Regions from separate parts of the Homo sapiens genome. Here region 1 is linked to region 2. The links come from fine-mapping of genetic effects on gene expression. A gene starts in region 2. The other region holds a variant in brackets. All regions are shown on one strand. Distances are from middle to middle.

Region 1 (4,379 bases), 60 kb before region 2:
CTAATCAAAGCCAGGGTCTCTCCCTCAGGTGTTTTTTATGAAGTGCGTGAATGTATGTAATGTGTGGTGGCCTCAGCTGAATGCCTCCTGTGGGGAAAGGGGTTGGGGTGACAGTCATCATCAGGGCCTGGGGCCTGAGAGAATTGGCTCAATAAAGATTTCAAGATCCTCCTGCTGTTGGAATCTTTTATACATATAAAGTTTTTGTAGAGACATGAGTCTCTCTGTGTTGCCCAGGATCCTCCCAACTTGGCCTCCCAAAGTGTTGGGATTACAGGTGTGAGCCACCCTGCCCAGCCTGGACTCTTTATTATTATAGGCGCAGAGCTGCAGTTGCCCCTCATGGTGCCAGAAGTTGCCAAGGGTGATGGACAGGCTCCCAGGTGTCTTGCAAAGTCACCATGGACCAATTTGTGAAGATGTAGTATGCATACATACTTGGTCATCACTCAGCTCCCTGGGGCTCAGGTTGTGGTGGAGACAAAAATGGACTGCAGTTAGAACTTAGGGAAACTGGCTGGGCATAGTGGCTCACACCTGTAATCCCAACACTTTGGTTGGGCTAGGTGGGCAGATCACTTGAGGCCAGGAGTTCGAGGCCAGCCTGGCCAGCATGGCGAAACCCCATCTCTACCAAAAATACAAAAAAAATTTAGCTGGGCGTGGTGGTGGGCGCTTGTAGTCCCAGCTACTCAGAAGGCTGAGGCAGGAGAATCGCTTGAACCCGGCAGGCAGAGGTTGCAGTGAGTGGAGATCACACCACTGCACTCCGATAGAGCAAGACTCCAACTCAAAAAAAAAAAAAACGGCCGGGCGCAGTGGCTCAGGCCTGTAATCCCAGCACTTTGGGAGGCCAAGGCGGGTGGATCACCTGAGGTCCGGAGTTCAAGACTGCCTGACCAACATGGTGAAACCCCGTCTCTACTAGAAATACAAAAAAATTAGCCGGCATGGTGGCAGATGCCTGTAATCCCAAGTACTCGGGAGGCTGAGGCAGGAGAATCGCTTGAACCCTGGAGGCAGAGGCTGCAGTGAGCCGAGATCGTGCCACTGCACATTATCCTGGGCGACAAGAGTGAAACTCCATCTCAAAAAAAAAAAAAAACAAAACCATCCCTTCAACACACACACACCACGCTCTGGGAGAAGGTGTGGCATAACTCCTTCACCAAATACAGAGCTGCCACCGTGGACCAGACACTGCTCGTGATACCGAGGGTATAGCTGTTAACAATTCTTGCTTTCATTAAGCATGGACTCTGCTGGGTTTGAAAACACTGAATTCGAAGTTCTTCAGAACTGAATGTAACTATGTGAATCTGGCCAGTTCCTTAATTTTCTTTCAACTTGGTTAGTTCACATAAGCGTGGCAATCGCAAAAATACAGCTGTGAAAATAGAAGCCAGATGGGCACCCGGCGGTCTGGCCTTAGGCCCTGAAGTGCAGGTTTGAGGATTGGTGCTTGCGAAGTCCTGCTAGGCCTGAACTCAGGTGTTGGGGGACGTCAGAGCCGCCAAATACACCCAAAAGACCGGGAGGACTCACGGCCACCACTTTCCTCGGTGGGAGCTGTCCCAGCTGGTCAGATCGCGCTTGCTGGGACCTGGGATCTCGCAACGCATGCTGGGATGCCCAGCATCTAAGGGCGCCCATTGGTCCCGCCCCCACGACTTGAGCAACAGCCAATCAGAGGTGGCAGCGTGCGGAAGCGGAAGTGAGGTTTCCGTGGAGACAGCCGAGCCTGCGGAAGGCGGCGGCGGCGGCACCTGCGATCAGCGGCTGGGGCAGGTTATGGTAGTGCGGACTGCGGTGTGAGCAGAGCGGCCACGGGGCCCGCCATGCGCCGGCGGCCCTGACATGGGCGCCAGCGGGTCCAAAGCTCGGGGCCTGTGGCCCTTCGCCTCGGCGGCCGGAGGCGGCGGCTCAGAGGCAGCAGGAGCTGAGCAAGCTTTGGTGCGGCCTCGGGGCCGAGCTGTGCCCCCCTTCGTATTCACGCGCCGCGGGTAAGGGCATGGGTTCCACCCTGGCGGGGGGAACAGGCGGGCGGCCAGGCGTCCCGCGCCACGGGGGAACTTCCACCGCTGTACCCCACTACAGCCAAGCCAGGACGACCCCCATATTTTGAGCCTCATTGGAGCTGGGGGTGGAGAAAGCC[G/A]GGCAGTGGTCTCCTGGCGGCCTGGCCACTCTGAAAGTCTCCCTAGGGAAGAGTGGGCCTGAGGCTTGTCACTGGTCGGACCTTCCGCACGGTAAAGCTAAGCTAGGGCCTCCATAAGACCTCCATAAGATCTCTTCCTTTCATCCCTTCCGGCTCAGCCTGCATACTGAAGGGTCCTAGCCTCCCTTTCCCCCCCAGTTATTCCAAGGGGATAATAACCCTCTGTTTAGGCTGCTTTTCCTGACAGTAGTGGGGCTGAACCTTTGAGCGTAGTGGCTGGGAAAGCAGGGATAGGCCTCAGTATTGGGGGTGAGGCTGAGGAAAAAAGACCCTCACCCAGTTATGTTCTCCAGATCCAGAGCGCTGACCTACCCACCCAACCCCCAGCCCAGTCTCCCAGAGGCCCGCACAAGAGTACCAGATTGGCTTGGCTCTAGTGGGCTCCTGGAGATGGGCGCTCCCTGTGCTAGAGATTTGGCTGTAGACACCAGGAAGACCCAACAGTGGCAATTCACCAGCCACCTGGGGTGTGGGGTCAGGGGAGACGCAGCCTTCATTCCTTTGTGCTTCTTCCTAGCTTAGGCTTCTGCTATTTCAGTCTTTGACACTGGGCCAGCAGCATCTTCTGGAGTGAGACCAACATGCCCAGGCCACCACCCTGCCCACTCTAGAAGTCCTGGGTGAAGGCAAAGTCCTGATATTAGAATGGCTGCCCTTGCTGAACAAATCAAGGATGAGAACTGGCCTTGGTGGCTGCCTGGATGGTGTGCTCTGGTGTGGGCTCTCTTCTTGGGGGTCTGACATAGTAGCACTGCCCACCCATCACCTCACTTCCCACTTTCTTCTAGTAGACCCCAAACCCCAGGCAAAGGATTCTCCAGGCAGGCCAGGCACCGTGGCTCACGCCTGTAATCCTAACACTTTGGGAGATGAAGACGAGTGGATTGCCTGAGTTCAGGAGTTCGAGACCAGCCAGAGCAACATGGCAAAACCCCGTCTCTACTAAAATACAAAAAATTAGCAGGGTGTGGTGGTGCATGTCTGTAGTCCCAGCTACTTGGGAGGCTGAGGCAGGAGAATTGCTTGAACCCAGGAGGCAGAGGTTGCAGCAAGCTGAGATCGCGCCACTGCACCTCCAGCCTGGGCAACAGAGTGAGATTCTGTCTCGAAAAATTTTTTTTAAAAAAAGGATTCTCCAGGCATATTATCCTCTTTTCTTCCCACTTGGGGTTGGGAAGACCACAGACTTCCCCGTGACCTGTGACATTTGCCATGCCCAGGTGTGGGGCTCCAGCCCAGCCTGTTTCCTTCTCCCTCTACACAGCTCTATGTTCTATGATGAGGATGGGGATCTGGCTCACGAGTTCTATGAGGAGACAATCGTCACCAAGAACGGGCAGAAGCGGGCCAAGCTGAGGCGAGTGCATAAGAATCTGATTCCTCAGGTGAGGGGCTGGGCAGCGGTCACAGAGCCTACACTAAGCGTGTGGAGGTGGACCCAGATGGGATCTGTTGTCATGGTGGGGGCTTTTGCGGGGGGATCTGGGAGGAACAAGGAAGCTTCCTGAAGTAGAGGCCCTGAGCTGACCCTTACTAGCCTCTGTTTCCATGGCAGGGCATCGTGAAGCTGGATCACCCCCGCATCCACGTGGATTTCCCTGTGATCCTCTATGAGGTGTGACCCTGGGAGGTGGCAGACAGAAGCACCCCCTGCCCCGGCAAGAAACTCCCAGGCTCAATCAAGGTGTGGCTTCCATTGAGGAGCCCAGGCTGGGGCCACAACCCTGAATAAACTCTGTTGGCCCATAACCTTCAGCTGTGAGCGGGTCGGTCCCACAGTATTGGTTGGGTGTTGGTTTGTGTGTGGACAAGAGGTGGTTGGTGGGTGGTGAAGGCTAATGGCAGAGTTAGCACCCCACTCTCCCAAGCCACCCCTGCAAGCAGCACAGCAGGGCATATACCAGTCAGGAATGCCCGTTACCTGGTTCCTTGCCTGGTCTGCTTTCTTCCAAGTTTGCCTGGGGCCTAGCCCTGCTAGAGGCTACAGCACTTTACAAGCAAGGTATGCTTTCTTCCAGCCCCTAGGCTGTGGGCACTGTATACAAGTAGGAACTTCCTTTCCTTCACTTCCCTTTTAACCCCTAGTCAGAGCATTTCAGCCGTTTGCTACCTCGATTCCTCCTGTGTTGGACAGAGGCTGGGGGCAGTGCCAGCCTGATTCTTC
Region 2 (4,379 bases):
TACCAGAGTCTGGTGACAGGCACGCACATGGGGCAACAGCCAACACAGAGCCCCCTGGCCATACGGGGACCCTTTCCTGCCCACCTCAAGCTGGGCCCTCCCGCCTGCCAGGTGCACCTACCTTGGAAGGAGAGCCGAAGGCGTGGGGGGCTGGGGGCGGCACTCCCCAGCCCCACTGCCCAGAGCAGGGCCAGGCCCGGGATCACGGCGGCAGCCCCGGCCCGCCCCATCTCAGCAGCTCAGGGTGCTCAGGGTTCAGCGGGTGTGTGTGTGGAGGAGCCTTGAGCTGCCCTGGACTCTGCCCCAGGATCTGGAAGAGGAGTCAGCAGTGAGGGCGAGGGCGGGAGGCTAGGGGGGGAGTCCCCAGGGATCAGATTACAGCCCCTAGGGGAAAGAGGCTGGGGGGTCGCATTCCACTTCCGAACCCTCCCCTCCGAGGGTGCCCCGCCTGGCCACAATCACAGACACACCCACGCCACTGGGCACACCCTCAGGGTCACCCTGCACTGGCAAGCCCGCCTCACCACGTCACCCTTCCCAGTAATCTCCTCTCTTGTATACACACTCACAGACATTAATTCACAATGTGCCACCCACTTCATGCCAGCCTAGACCTGGGAGGAGGGATACTGGGAGACATAGACAAGGTCCCCATGTGAAAGGGGACAGAGTGCCAACAAGGAATCAGATGGATGCAGAGGGTGCCAAGTGCAATGAGCAAAACAAGCCAGTCAAAAGAGTGAGAGTGACAGGAGGGGGTCAGGCCTCTGGAGGTGGCAGTGTCCCCACAGTCCCGCAGAAAAACACAGAGACACTTTTGAGGCTGGAGCCAAGGGTGTGGGTGCCTGTGAATGTGTTTCCGAGTGTCCCCTTGTGATGTGCGCATGTGTGTAGTGTGTATGTGCATGTGTGTGCACATCTATGTGCAAATATATAGTGTGTCATATTGCACATGTGTGGATATGGGTTGGTGTGCACACACATGTGGCACTGTGCAATCCATGCAGTACATATGTGTGATATGTGCATATTTTGCACACAGATGTGTTGCACATTTGTGCATGTGCAAACGTGTGCACCCATAAGAATAGACATGTCTCTGGGCATGCAAGTGAGCAAATCCAACTGCAGCATCAATCACTCCATTCCTCAGAGGGAGAAGTGCTACCCAGGAGACCCAAGACCTGGGCAGAAGCCTCAGCCTCTGACTTGGGGACTGCTCCCAACCCAGCTGAAGCAGCCTCTGCATTTGAGCTTGAGGGCTCTCTCTCCACACCCCTGAGGAATCAAAGAGGGGCAAGGTGAGGCAGCCCTTCATTTGCACCCCAGCCTCCTGGCCTCGCTGAGCTGGCCTTCCCTCTCAACGCCTCCACAGCCTCTCTGAGCCTCTCCCTTCACTTCTCTCACCCCTTGAGTTCTTCCCCATCTTTGAGCCCCTTCACTCTAGGAGCCAGACACCTCCCCCTGGCCCTCAGCTGGGGCAAAGACCTGGCTGCTATGCCCACCCTCCTTCCCAGGGGTCAGCTGGGCAGGTGCTGGACACAGGAGCCCAGGGAGTGGGACAAGGTTCCAGGTGGGATTAAGCAAGTGGAGCAGCTGCTGAGGCAGGTTCCAGGCCCCTCCACCCACACTCCTGCCCAGCTCCTGGCCCCATCCCAGGCCAGGACCCCCACCTCCCTCCTTCCCTCCGCTGACACTTGCCGCTGCCTCTTCTCAGGTTCTAGAGGTCTTCCAGGCCAACACTGGCTGCCTTCTCACACTCCACCGAGGACTTCCGCAGCAGCATCTCTCCACTCTGGCCCCTTCCCACCCTGGGGCCGCTGGGGACCCTCTGACGGCTCCTTTAAGAAGCAGCCCCCGCCCCCACCAGGCCAGCCACCGCCCCACGCACCGCCCGCCGTGCCGTAAAGTTTAGAGGGCGGATCGGGTGACCGGGCAGGCAGCCGGGACCAGCTGGAGACGGCAGCCAGGCGGGAGTGGAATGGGCACAAGGGAGGGGCTGGTAGGGACGACCCCTCCCATATTGGGCCTTAAAGCAGAAGGGTGCCCCAGGTGGCGGTCCCAGAAGCCAGGTGGCCAGCCAAGGCAAGGGAGGAAGAAACCCCAGCTCCAGGGGCTCAGCAGGCAAAGGGAATCACTGAGTGGGGGCACCACCCGTGGACTCCAATATCTCAACCTCTCCCTCCACAGGTGGGGAGCTGTGGGGAAAGATAATGGGGAGCTCAGCTGCCACCTCAGTTCCCAGGGACCGGCTGGGGTGGCCGGGCAGCTGGAGGTCAGGGGAGGGGCTCTCAACTGGAGGTCGGATGGGCCCTCAGGACCCAGTCCCCATCCTTCCTCAACACTTGGGCCACTTAGTACTTCAGTGGCCTGGCCAGCAGTGGCTTCTACCATGACAGCCAGATAGGGGAGGGAGAGGAGGGCAGGAGAGGGGCAGACGCAGGAGGAGCAGCAAATCTCACTTCTGCACCACAGGGCGGGGCCCATCTGGAGTCCGCCATCCTGGACAGGTAGCTTTGCATCTCTGCTGAGAGGTTGGGGGGCAGACCATGTGACCTCCCTTCCTCTGGCTTCTCTTTCTAGGTTGGAGGTGGGAGGAACAACCCCCACCAAACCCAGAGCCGAAAACTGAGGGAGTTTTACAGACAGGACGGAGCTCCTGCACCTCGGAGCCTCAGTTGGGAATGACCTGGGGTCTTGTCCTGAAGCTGAGTCTGGTGAACGTGCCCCATTTGTAACATGAGGGGTACTTCTCTGGAGGGACTGTATGTTGACAGTGGCAGAGTGGAGCCCTGAAGTCCACCTGAGTGAATATACCAGGGCTTGAGAATGGGCTTTGATCCTTCCATCCCCGCAAAAGGCATTTTCCTACCACCTCCCAAGGCTGATGGGGCAGTGTGGGCATTTCAAGTGTTGCAGTTCTGTTGCCCAGCCCTGGATGCCTCCAGCCAAGCAAGGACAGAGGTGGGGGGCACATCTCCAAGTCCCCTGGAAGTGGAAGTGGGGCTATGCCCCTCCTTCCTGAGCCTGAGGACCTGGTATACCTGGCCTGGCCTGGCCAGCTGGCAGGTAAATAACAGGGGCCAGTGGGAGCCGCAGGGCCCTTCAGGAGGGCAAGTGGAAGGACAGATCCCTGCCTGGGCTCGTGGGCTTCCTGGATGTGGCCTTTTCCTACTCCAGGAGTAGCTGCCTCTAGCCTTAGAGGACCTGGGCAGGCTCTCCTGGCTCCATGCAAGCAGACAACATTCTTTGGCTGTTTACAGCTTTCCACCCAAGCAGCCAGGATCAGCAAGTGCCTCAGAGGCTCCCATCCACTCCCACTGTGCCCCCATAGGCCCTCACTGCCTTATGTTTTTCCAGGCCCAGGGGCCCTGTCTCTGTTTCATCACCCCGCACCTTCCTCCACCTGTGTTCACTCTGGGAAACGGTATCAGAAACCCCCCCGCCACCGCCATTATCTTTCCAATAGCCTGGGAGTCAACCCCCAGCCAAAAGGACTAGACTGTCTCTGTCCCCATTGAGTGCTGTGCCCTGTCCTCTGTCCTCTAGATGTGTACCCTCCCTTGAGTAGGAATGGAGGTCTCCAGGGATGGGAGGTCAAGTTGTCCCTGATTCCACATGGTCCCCTTTCTGTTCCTCAGCCCCAGGTCCAGTGTGCCAGGCCATGGGTAGGGGCCCCCATGGAGGTCAGCACTCCAGGAGCAAGGTCACTGCCTGTGGGTCACACTGGGGGCTGGAACTCCTCGAGGATTCTGGAATCAGGCAGCCTGAGCCTGAGTCTCAACAGAATGGGGCAAACCAGGCAAGGCAGCTGGGGTCCCTTTTCCTGCCTGTACTCCTACCCTGGACCTCTCTCTTTTGAGGGAGCTTCCATGGGCAGAGACCTGCCTGGGTCCTTGCTCTGGGGCTGCCTGTCAGTGGCATGGCCTACCACGGCCTTGGCTTTTCCTTCTGGAAAAACCTGGATTGTTGTGCCAAATCTCAGCACCTGCCTCCCCACCCCTGGCCACCAGCTGGGCCTGCCCCTTTGCCCCTGCCTGGACTCCGGGTGGTGTGGTTGGGGTGGGACACCCATCTGAGGAAGGTTGTGGCAACCCTCCCAGTGCAGCCTGGACTGGATGGGATCTTGGGCGCCCCACTCACACCTGCTTTAGTCATCAGGGCTTGTGGCTCCAACGTCACAACTCTTCCTTGTTCTGGCCACGTAGGTACCAGGTCATGCTGCCCAGAGGACTTAGGCACAGTGGGGGCAGGCGTGGGCGGCCATAGGATCATCACCTGAGGCCTAACTTCCCAGACACTCTAAGGCCCTGCCCCAGGGGCATCTCCTGGGGAAGCGTCTGCAGGCATGTCCTCACCCCAGCCTGGTCTCCACATTC

The links. PIP is the estimated chance that this variant, and not a neighbour inherited with it, causes the effect. A credible set is the group of variants that fine-mapping cannot tell apart.
Region 1: its variant is the best candidate, but not a certain one, in a credible set for the expression of SEMA3B-AS1 in subcutaneous fat (GTEx, PIP 0.86).

Annotation. Positions count from the first base shown.
Region 1 is chr3:50,325,578-50,329,956 of GRCh38, reverse strand. TUSC2 (tumor suppressor 2, mitochondrial calcium regulator) reads left to right here and starts at 1,734. Exons shown (of 3, transcript NM_007275.3): 1 at 1,734-2,003; 2 at 3,480-3,600; 3 at 3,771-4,379. The coding sequence starts at 1,858. The coding sequence ends at 3,836. It overlaps RASSF1 (Ras association domain family member 1), which reads left to right. Exons shown (of 6, transcript NM_007182.5): 6 at 1-169. RefSeq lists an enhancer at 1,490-1,599. The variant G/A (reference allele first, on the strand shown) is at 2,156.
Region 2 is chr3:50,265,092-50,269,470 of GRCh38, reverse strand. SEMA3B-AS1 (SEMA3B antisense RNA 1) reads left to right here and starts at 2,100. Exons shown (of 2, transcript NR_110702.1): 1 at 2,100-2,190; 2 at 2,584-2,830. SEMA3B (semaphorin 3B) reads right to left here and starts at 324. Exons shown (of 17, transcript NM_001290060.2): 1 at 122-324. The coding sequence starts at 230. RefSeq lists an enhancer at 3,969-4,379.